Homo sapiens: one gene and its partner. The main gene of each other region encodes a partner of the protein of the gene in region 2 in a complex. Each region holds a gene or a part of one and is shown on either strand. Other genes may lie near its edges. The genes, in order: SNRNP200 and LSM6.

Region 1 (3,821 bases), on a different chromosome or scaffold from region 2:
TCATCACCCGCAAGGGTGGTGAGCGCACCTACACCCAGCTGGTGCGGCTCATCATTCTGGTGAGTTGGGAGCAGTCGTAGAATATAGAGTCCAGTTGTGTCAGGGCGGGTTTGCTGGGTTTTCATGCGAAATGTTTCTTTGCTGCCTTTTCTGTAGGCACTAGCCTTTGTAATGACTAGTCCTCCAATTCCGTAGGATGAGATCCATCTTCTCCACGATGACAGAGGTCCTGTCTTAGAAGCTTTGGTGGCCAGGGCCATCCAAAACATTATAATGACAGCTATTGTCAGCTTGTGTTTGCCATCTTATTTATTTATTTATTTGTTTGTTTGTTTGTTTGAGATGGAGTCTAGCTCTGTCGCCCAGGCTGAGTACAGTGGCACGATCTTGGCTCACTGCAGCCTCTGCCTCCCGAGTTCAAGCAATTCTCCTGCCTCAGCCTCCCCTGTAGCTGGAATTACAGGCGCCTGCCACCATGCCCAGCTAATTTTTATATTTTTAGTAGAGACTGGGTTTCACTGTGTTGGCCAGGCTGGTCTCGAACTCCTGACCTCGTGATCTACCCACCTCAGCCTCCCAAAGTTCTGGGATTACAAGCGTGAGCCACTGCGCCTAGCCTGCCATGTTATTCTTTATATATTTTTTTATGTCTGAAATATTTTACTACACTTGATCTTAAGCCAAAAGGCCAAGAAGCTATGTCTGAAATATTTTGAAACAAATGTAAACAGATAGACAAAAAACCATCATATCCAACATCATTTAGGGTTTTATAAGTAAAAGAATCCATTCTCTGAGGGAATGAGTGAGGAAGCAGGATATTGTATTCCATATACACAGAAACTTCCAGAGATTAGTGACTAAGTCTGAGTATAGTTTAAGTTGTCTGGGAAAAGCAAGAAAGGAGACTTCACGTGTTGGTTTTCAGTGTTCTGGAGCAGGGGTTGGCAGTCTGTGGGTACTGGCTTTGTTCTGTTGGAACATAGTTACACCCATTTGTTTATGTATTGTTTACAGCTGCTTTTGGCTGCAATGGCAGAGCTGAGTATTTGCAATAGGGGCTGCGTGGGCCAAAGCCTGAAATACTGACTGTCTGGCTTTTTTTTTTTAGACGGAGTTTCACTCTTGTTGCCCAGGCTGGAGTGCGATGATGCAATCTCAGCTCACTACAGCCTCCGCCTCCCGGGTTCAAGCAGTTCTCCTGCCTCAGTCTCCCGAGTAGCTGGGATTACAGTTGCCCGCCACCATGCCCAGCTAATTTTTTGTATTTTTAGTAGAAATGGGGTTTCACCAATCTGATGGCCAGGCTGGTCTCGAACTCCTGGCCTTGGGTGATGCACCTACCTCAGCCTCCCAAAGTGCTGGGATTACAGGCGTGAGCCACTGCCCCCGGCTTTTTTTTTTTTTTTTTTTTGAGATGGAGCATCTGACTTTTTAAAAAAAACATTTCTGGTCCCTGCTTTAGAGCTTTGCTACTTGAAGCCTGATCCATGGTTGGGGTCATAGCAGCAGCAGCATGGAATAGGAGCTTGTTAGAAATGCAGGATTTGTGGCCTCACCCCACACCTGCTGAATACAATCTCCTTTTTAACAACATCCCCTGGCTTTGGGATACTTAATAAAATTTGAGATGCACTGCTTTAGACTATTCAAACTCATCATTTGATGTGTGATAGCTTTTGTTCTTGGGAACTATAACTGCCAGAGGTGAAGCTTCTGATCAGATCATATTTATATCCTTTTTCATAAAGAAGTTTACCTTTAAGTAAAGTTTAAACTCATTTATCTGAGTTTCAGAATTTCTTTATACAAAGTATGTTACTGAACTGTACCAAAGCAACTCATGGTCAGAGTCTGTTACTTTCTGGAGTATTTCATGGGAAATATTGTCTCCATCCTTTGGGCATCTGTGGCTTGGGATCCCTTGTCTTTTTTCTTAGGCATATTAGGTTATATGCCTACAATATGGGACAATTCCAGGAAAAGGGACTATGTATCTCTAGTGCTAGAGGTAATTTCTGTCCTCCAATTCCGTAGGATGAGATTCATCTTCTCCACGATGACAGAGGTCCTGTCTTAGAAGCTTTAGTGGCCAGGGCCATCCGAAACATTGAGATGACCCAAGAGGATGTCCGACTCATTGGTCTCAGTGCCACCCTACCCAACTATGAAGATGTAGCCACCTTTCTACGTGTTGACCCTGCCAAGGGTCTCTTTTACTTTGACAACAGGTATCAGGAAAGACTGGGCAAAGTTCTGCCAAGGTGACCATCCTGCTCTCTTTCCTCTTTTCCAAGGAGTGCTACTGGGTTGGGTTTTAGAAGGGCCTTTGGGTTTTGATGTGGTGTGAATCATAAAGGAGGAATATTGCTCTTGGGGCAGTGAAAAAGACTGTTTATTCCCACAGTATTTTCTGCCAAAGCCTCATTTGTCTAACTGTTGAACTTCTAGCTTCCGTCCAGTGCCTCTGGAACAGACATATGTGGGTATCACAGAGAAAAAAGCTATCAAGCGTTTCCAGATCATGAATGAAATCGTCTATGAAAAAATCATGGAACATGCTGGAAAAAATCAGGTTTGCCCGTGGTTTATGGTTACTCTTGAACCCCATTCTTTCGAATGTTTGATTCACCAATAATTGGGGAAGATTGACAGAAATTAAAAGAGAGAAGACACAACATAAATCACCAATATCAGCTATGAAATGGGATATTACTACAGAACCTATAGCCACTGGAAGGATAATAAGGGAATACTATGAGTAATTTTATGCTCATAACTTTAAAAATTCAGAAGAAATGGACCAGTTCTCCAACAACTACCAGTTAACTAGCAAAACTCAGCCCAGATGAAATAGATAACATGAAGAGCCCTACAACTATTAGAGAGTTGGAGAATTAAAAATCCCCCCAGCAAGCAATCCCCAGTCCCAGATAATTGTTTTGTGCATTCGCATTATCCAGGGTCCCTCCATAAAAGATTTGGGGTCACTTACACTAAAAATGCAAGACAATAAAAAGAGGAAAATGAAAAACTAGAGGGCATTTTACTAGACAGTGTGATAGAATTTTTAAATTGAAAGTCGAGTTGAGCAATGTTAACTAACAAAAAATAAGGAAAAGTGACTGGTTTTGTATTTCTTTTTGTCTGATGAAAAGAAGCATATGAATTTATATGAAGAGACAGATCTTTTCTTGGCACTAAATACTAGGAAGACTTCATTCCCTACAACAGTGTACTAGTCTCAGACTTATTTCCTAAATCCTTTTATAAGTAGTGTAATGTTTTAGTTGTTATTTTGCAGACACATTTTCATGCAGCTTTGACTCTTGTTAGGTGCTTGAACATAAATTCTGAGTTGAGAGGCCCGAATTTGTAGTTGTAGTCTATTTAAAGTTGCTGTTCAAGATAGGATGTTGAAGTTGGTTTAATTTCTCAGCTCCAGGACTGTGAACTTGGTGGGTGCATTCCCTTAAAAGTCTTTCCAGCCGTGTTTAGGCTTCCTCTGAGCCTGCACACATTCCTGCCCTTGCCCCTCTCCAGGACCTTGGCTTCTGGTGGTGATGGTGCAACTTCTGCTTCCTGCTGCAGGTGCCCTGGGGCTGTGAGTATCTCGTGACTGTAGCAAACTGTGGCTTCTCCTTAGGTGCTGGTGTTTGTCCACTCCCGGAAGGAGACTGGAAAGACAGCCAGGGCCATCCGGGACATGTGCCTAGAAAAGGACACTCTGGGTCTGTTTCTGAGGGAGGGCTCAGCCTCCACAGAAGTCCTGCGAACAGAAGCTGAGCAGTGCAAGGTGAGGAGGGGCCAGCTGGGTTCTC
Region 2 (3,821 bases):
GTAAAAACTTACAGGTAAACATTGCCAAGAAATAAGGATTTTCATGTCTTCTGCTCAGTGGCATAACTCAAATCACATGAGATAGATTTCTTTGCATCTGTCCATTGTATTTCTCTGAGGCTAATTTACAGCACTTTGTCACGTTAGGTATTTTTTTTCCCCAGTGCTGCTACTCTCCAACTGGATTTCTCACCGCCTCTATTGCGATTCCCCAAGATTTAACCAGAGAATCTTAACATATTCAGAAGGGCAGCTGTACCTGTGAAAGGGCTTGGGCTTTGGGGTCAGCCTTGGCTTTGCTTTCCACCTCACAGGGTTTCTCTGTAAATTGCTTATGAATCTAACTCTGGTAGCACATAGTTGGGTTAATAAAAGTTCTTTTTTTTCTTCATTCTTTTACCAAAAAGAAAAAAATTCCCTGCAGGGCACTTTGCAGATGTTTTCATACTAGACCTCTCAGTAGCTTCTGACAGAAAATATACTGCCTTTGACTTAATAGTCATTTATGAAAATAGGTCATTTAAAACAAGCCTGAGTAGGAGTCAGGGGAGGGAGAGGAGGTATAGAGAGTGATTATGACTTTAATTTTGAAAGGAGAAGTTTTACCAGGGTGACCCTGAAGAAAGGTCTTTTTCCTCTTATGTGTTTATGGTTCAAGAGACTCATCTCTTGCTTCAGAAATTGTCAGAACTGTTTCTTCTGCTTTATCCAATTTAAAAGATGAAAACTTAAAATTACTTGAGCCAAGTGATGGGAAAAATTGTGGTGTCAAGACCAATTTACTCATACAAAATGGATTTATGGGCAAGTCATTAAGTAACAGGGAGTAGCAAGGAAGCCTAATGAAGACTAATGTAAAAGATACGGCTTTCCTAAAGTGATGGATAAAATGTGTTTGAGGCAACCCATATACTCTTTTCCAAATAACCTTAGAAGTATTTTTTTTCCAAGAGGTTTAGTAGAATGTAGATATTCTAGAGAACAGATGAGAAGCTTGTGAGCCCCTCTTGTCATGTGGCTTACAGTATTTTGAGGGAGAAAAGACCCACATAAAGAATACAAAAGAGGGCATAGTGACAGGTTATAGCAAATAAAATCAAATGCCAAACTATGTGATGCCAAAAGTAGGTGAGATGGGCATCTGCACTCTGCTATGGAAAGTAGAGAGTGGAACCCAAGCAAGTTCCTGCTTAAAACCCCTGTTTCCTATCATTGACAACAGTATTTCCCCTTGCCAGTTATTTCCTAGGCTTGTTCAAATAGATTGCTGGCTCCTACCCCAGAACTACTGAGTAGAATCTCCAGCTGATCCTAATGATTCAAGTTTGGGAAACTGACCCAGAGCCTCAACTCTGTGCTCCCTGTGAATGTGGCACAGCTCCCTGCCGCAGAGGCGTCTCCTCCTTGCCTATGTAGATTTTACGTTCTACCCAGACACTTGTTCCGTGCCTTTTCTGACTTCTCTTCTTTCAGCTAGGGGGTGACGCCTTTTCCTTCAAATTCAGCTCAGGTGTTAACTTCCAGAAATTCTTTGATCTGCCAAGCCTGGGGTAAGAGAGTGTTCTCTGCCCTTTTGTGCATAATTCTATCAGAATACACATCACCTTTGTAAAATTCTGCATTTACATGTTTCTTGCCCTCTCTGGAATGTAAACTCTGAGGGCTTAAGGCCTTGTCTTTGTGTTACATTCCCCAACCCTGTGCGCCTGAACTTGACAGGTGCTCCGTGAAAGTTGGAAGTGTTGATTGCCTTCAGGAAGAGATTGATGTTAATTGGAATACAGATAAAGCATAATGGACAAGGCGTTATCTTTGGTGAGCTTAGAAGAACATATCTGTGTTTATAAAAAGGTGTGGAAAGTTAATATTAATAATACTTTTAAAATAACCTATACTGTCAAGCAACTGATAGTCAAGATTTGCATTCTTTTTTCTGACAGTTATTAACTCTTTCCAGCTTTTGCTTTTCAAATGTTTTTAATCTGAAACTGTAAATACTCTATGAGCAGATGAAATTAGTAATAATTAAAGTAGTTAATATCTCCATGAACTAGAATCACATTACAAAGCATTTTAGTGATTTTTAACACAAAATAGCTACTTTTATCTCAGTTTTATACATAATGAAACTGTGGCATAATGGGATTTAGCATCTGTGATAGGAAATGCACCTGACTCATCAGTTGAGTATCAGGCCTTCAGAGTTAATATTCTCTCTAGATGTGTTCAGCCTCAAAACAGCATGTATTCAAAATGTAAATAAGGCGGTTTATAGATGAATGGGAAGATTTGTGTATTTTCACTAAACTCATTAAAGGTACTGAATCTGTTACAGTATTTATTTTGTATTTTTTCACTTTGTACTCAGAACAGTGTAAATAAAATTACTGTGTGATCTGAGTCCTGAATGAAAAGTGGTTGTCCTGAATAGTAGTTGTAATAGTAGTTGTAATTGTAGTTATCTGTTGAGATTGTGGAGCTAATAAAATAAGCTAGAAATTCAGTGGAAAAGTTAAGTTAACATTTGTTGAGCAAAATAATTTATTGCATTTTAAAAACATCTTTCAAACCTTGGGGGCAGTGTAGATTGTCCAAATGATAGCCCAAAATTCAAAGATAATTTCTGAAATTTGTATTTTCTTTTATTTGACTTAGGATGTTGACTTTTCTTGGCTAAATAAAATTATTTTACTTAAATTATGATTGCGTTTGTTTACTCACACTCTTTAAATGAGTTTAAATTCTTCTAGATTTTAAGTTCTTTAAGGCAGAGCCTTTGTGTATGACATGTTTTTGAATTTCCTTGCTCAGTGTGTACATGTACATGTAATTTGTTGAGCCCAGTAACCTAGAGTTCCAGCTTACTACAACTGCTGATCCCGTGTGAATTCACTATGAGAACGTCTCCAAATAATCCTTCTCCACACAAACTCAGATTATTGAGTGGATGGACTTAGAATGAAATAAGCATAGTGGAAGAATGTTTAATGAAAAAATAATGGAAGAATATTTAATGAAAAAATTTCATTGAAAACAAAAGAACAGCTTGAGTTCTTGAAGGGAATCCTTAAAATATTGTATCCATACTAACTTTTAAGTCTCAGTGCTATATAGCTGCTGAATAATAGTGATGCTGAATTTGACTGAAACAGAAAAATTAATTTCTGAAATATTTTTACTCAGTTTTTGCTTAACTACAGTTTTATTAACTTACCAACATATTTTGAAAGAGAGCTATTTTATAAGAAAAGATGCGTTTTGAAAGGAGTGATGTGCAGCTTTGCATGTCTGATGCTGTTGATTTGGGTGTGTAATGCTATCTCTTTTTCTGTGTTAGACTCCTGTTATACTTGAGTTTTAAGACTTTTTTCTTCATTATTTAGAGCACATATCTGCTATAGTCCTAATAGAGTAATTAAAAATCTTTGACTGTGTTATTGACTTTCAGAAAGCTGTTTAAGGTTGTGATTAAGAGTATGGGCTGGCTATCCACTTTCTAGCTGTGTGACCTTGAGCAGAGTGTTTAATCTTTCTGTGTCTTCTTCTTCATGTGTAAAATGAGGATAAAAACAATACCTCCCTTTTAGGGTAGAGCAATTTAAATTGATTAATATATATAAAGTTCTTGGAAAAGTGCTGGCATATAGTACACTCAAAATTACCTTTAGATTATAATTCTTTTCAGAGATACCATTTAGGCATCAGTTGTTCATAAATATGTCTGTTCTATATAATACGGACTTTAAAATAGGGCTGATTTGAACTTGAATGTTCCATCACATTTGGGAACAAATTATTTAATCTTTCTGTGCCTTTACTTT

Evidence for each region.
Region 1: LSM6 (region 2) and SNRNP200 share a complex: the UniProt entries of both Homo sapiens proteins name them as parts of the U4/U6-U5 tri-snRNP complex.

What each region holds. Positions count from the first base shown.
Region 1 is NC_000002.12:96,291,726-96,295,546, reverse strand, and holds part of SNRNP200 (U5 small nuclear ribonucleoprotein 200 kDa helicase), read left to right. Parts: coding exon 1-59; intron 60-2,037; coding exon 2,038-2,231; intron 2,232-2,451; coding exon 2,452-2,575; intron 2,576-3,646; coding exon 3,647-3,796; intron 3,797-3,821. UniProt on the Homo sapiens protein: Catalyzes the ATP-dependent unwinding of U4/U6 RNA duplices, an essential step in the assembly of a catalytically active spliceosome. Plays a role in pre-mRNA splicing as a core component of precatalytic, catalytic and postcatalytic spliceosomal complexes.
Region 2 is NC_000004.12:146,178,620-146,182,440, forward strand, and holds part of LSM6 (U6 snRNA-associated Sm-like protein LSm6), read left to right. Parts: intron 1-3,821. UniProt on the Homo sapiens protein: Plays a role in pre-mRNA splicing as component of the U4/U6-U5 tri-snRNP complex that is involved in spliceosome assembly, and as component of the precatalytic spliceosome (spliceosome B complex).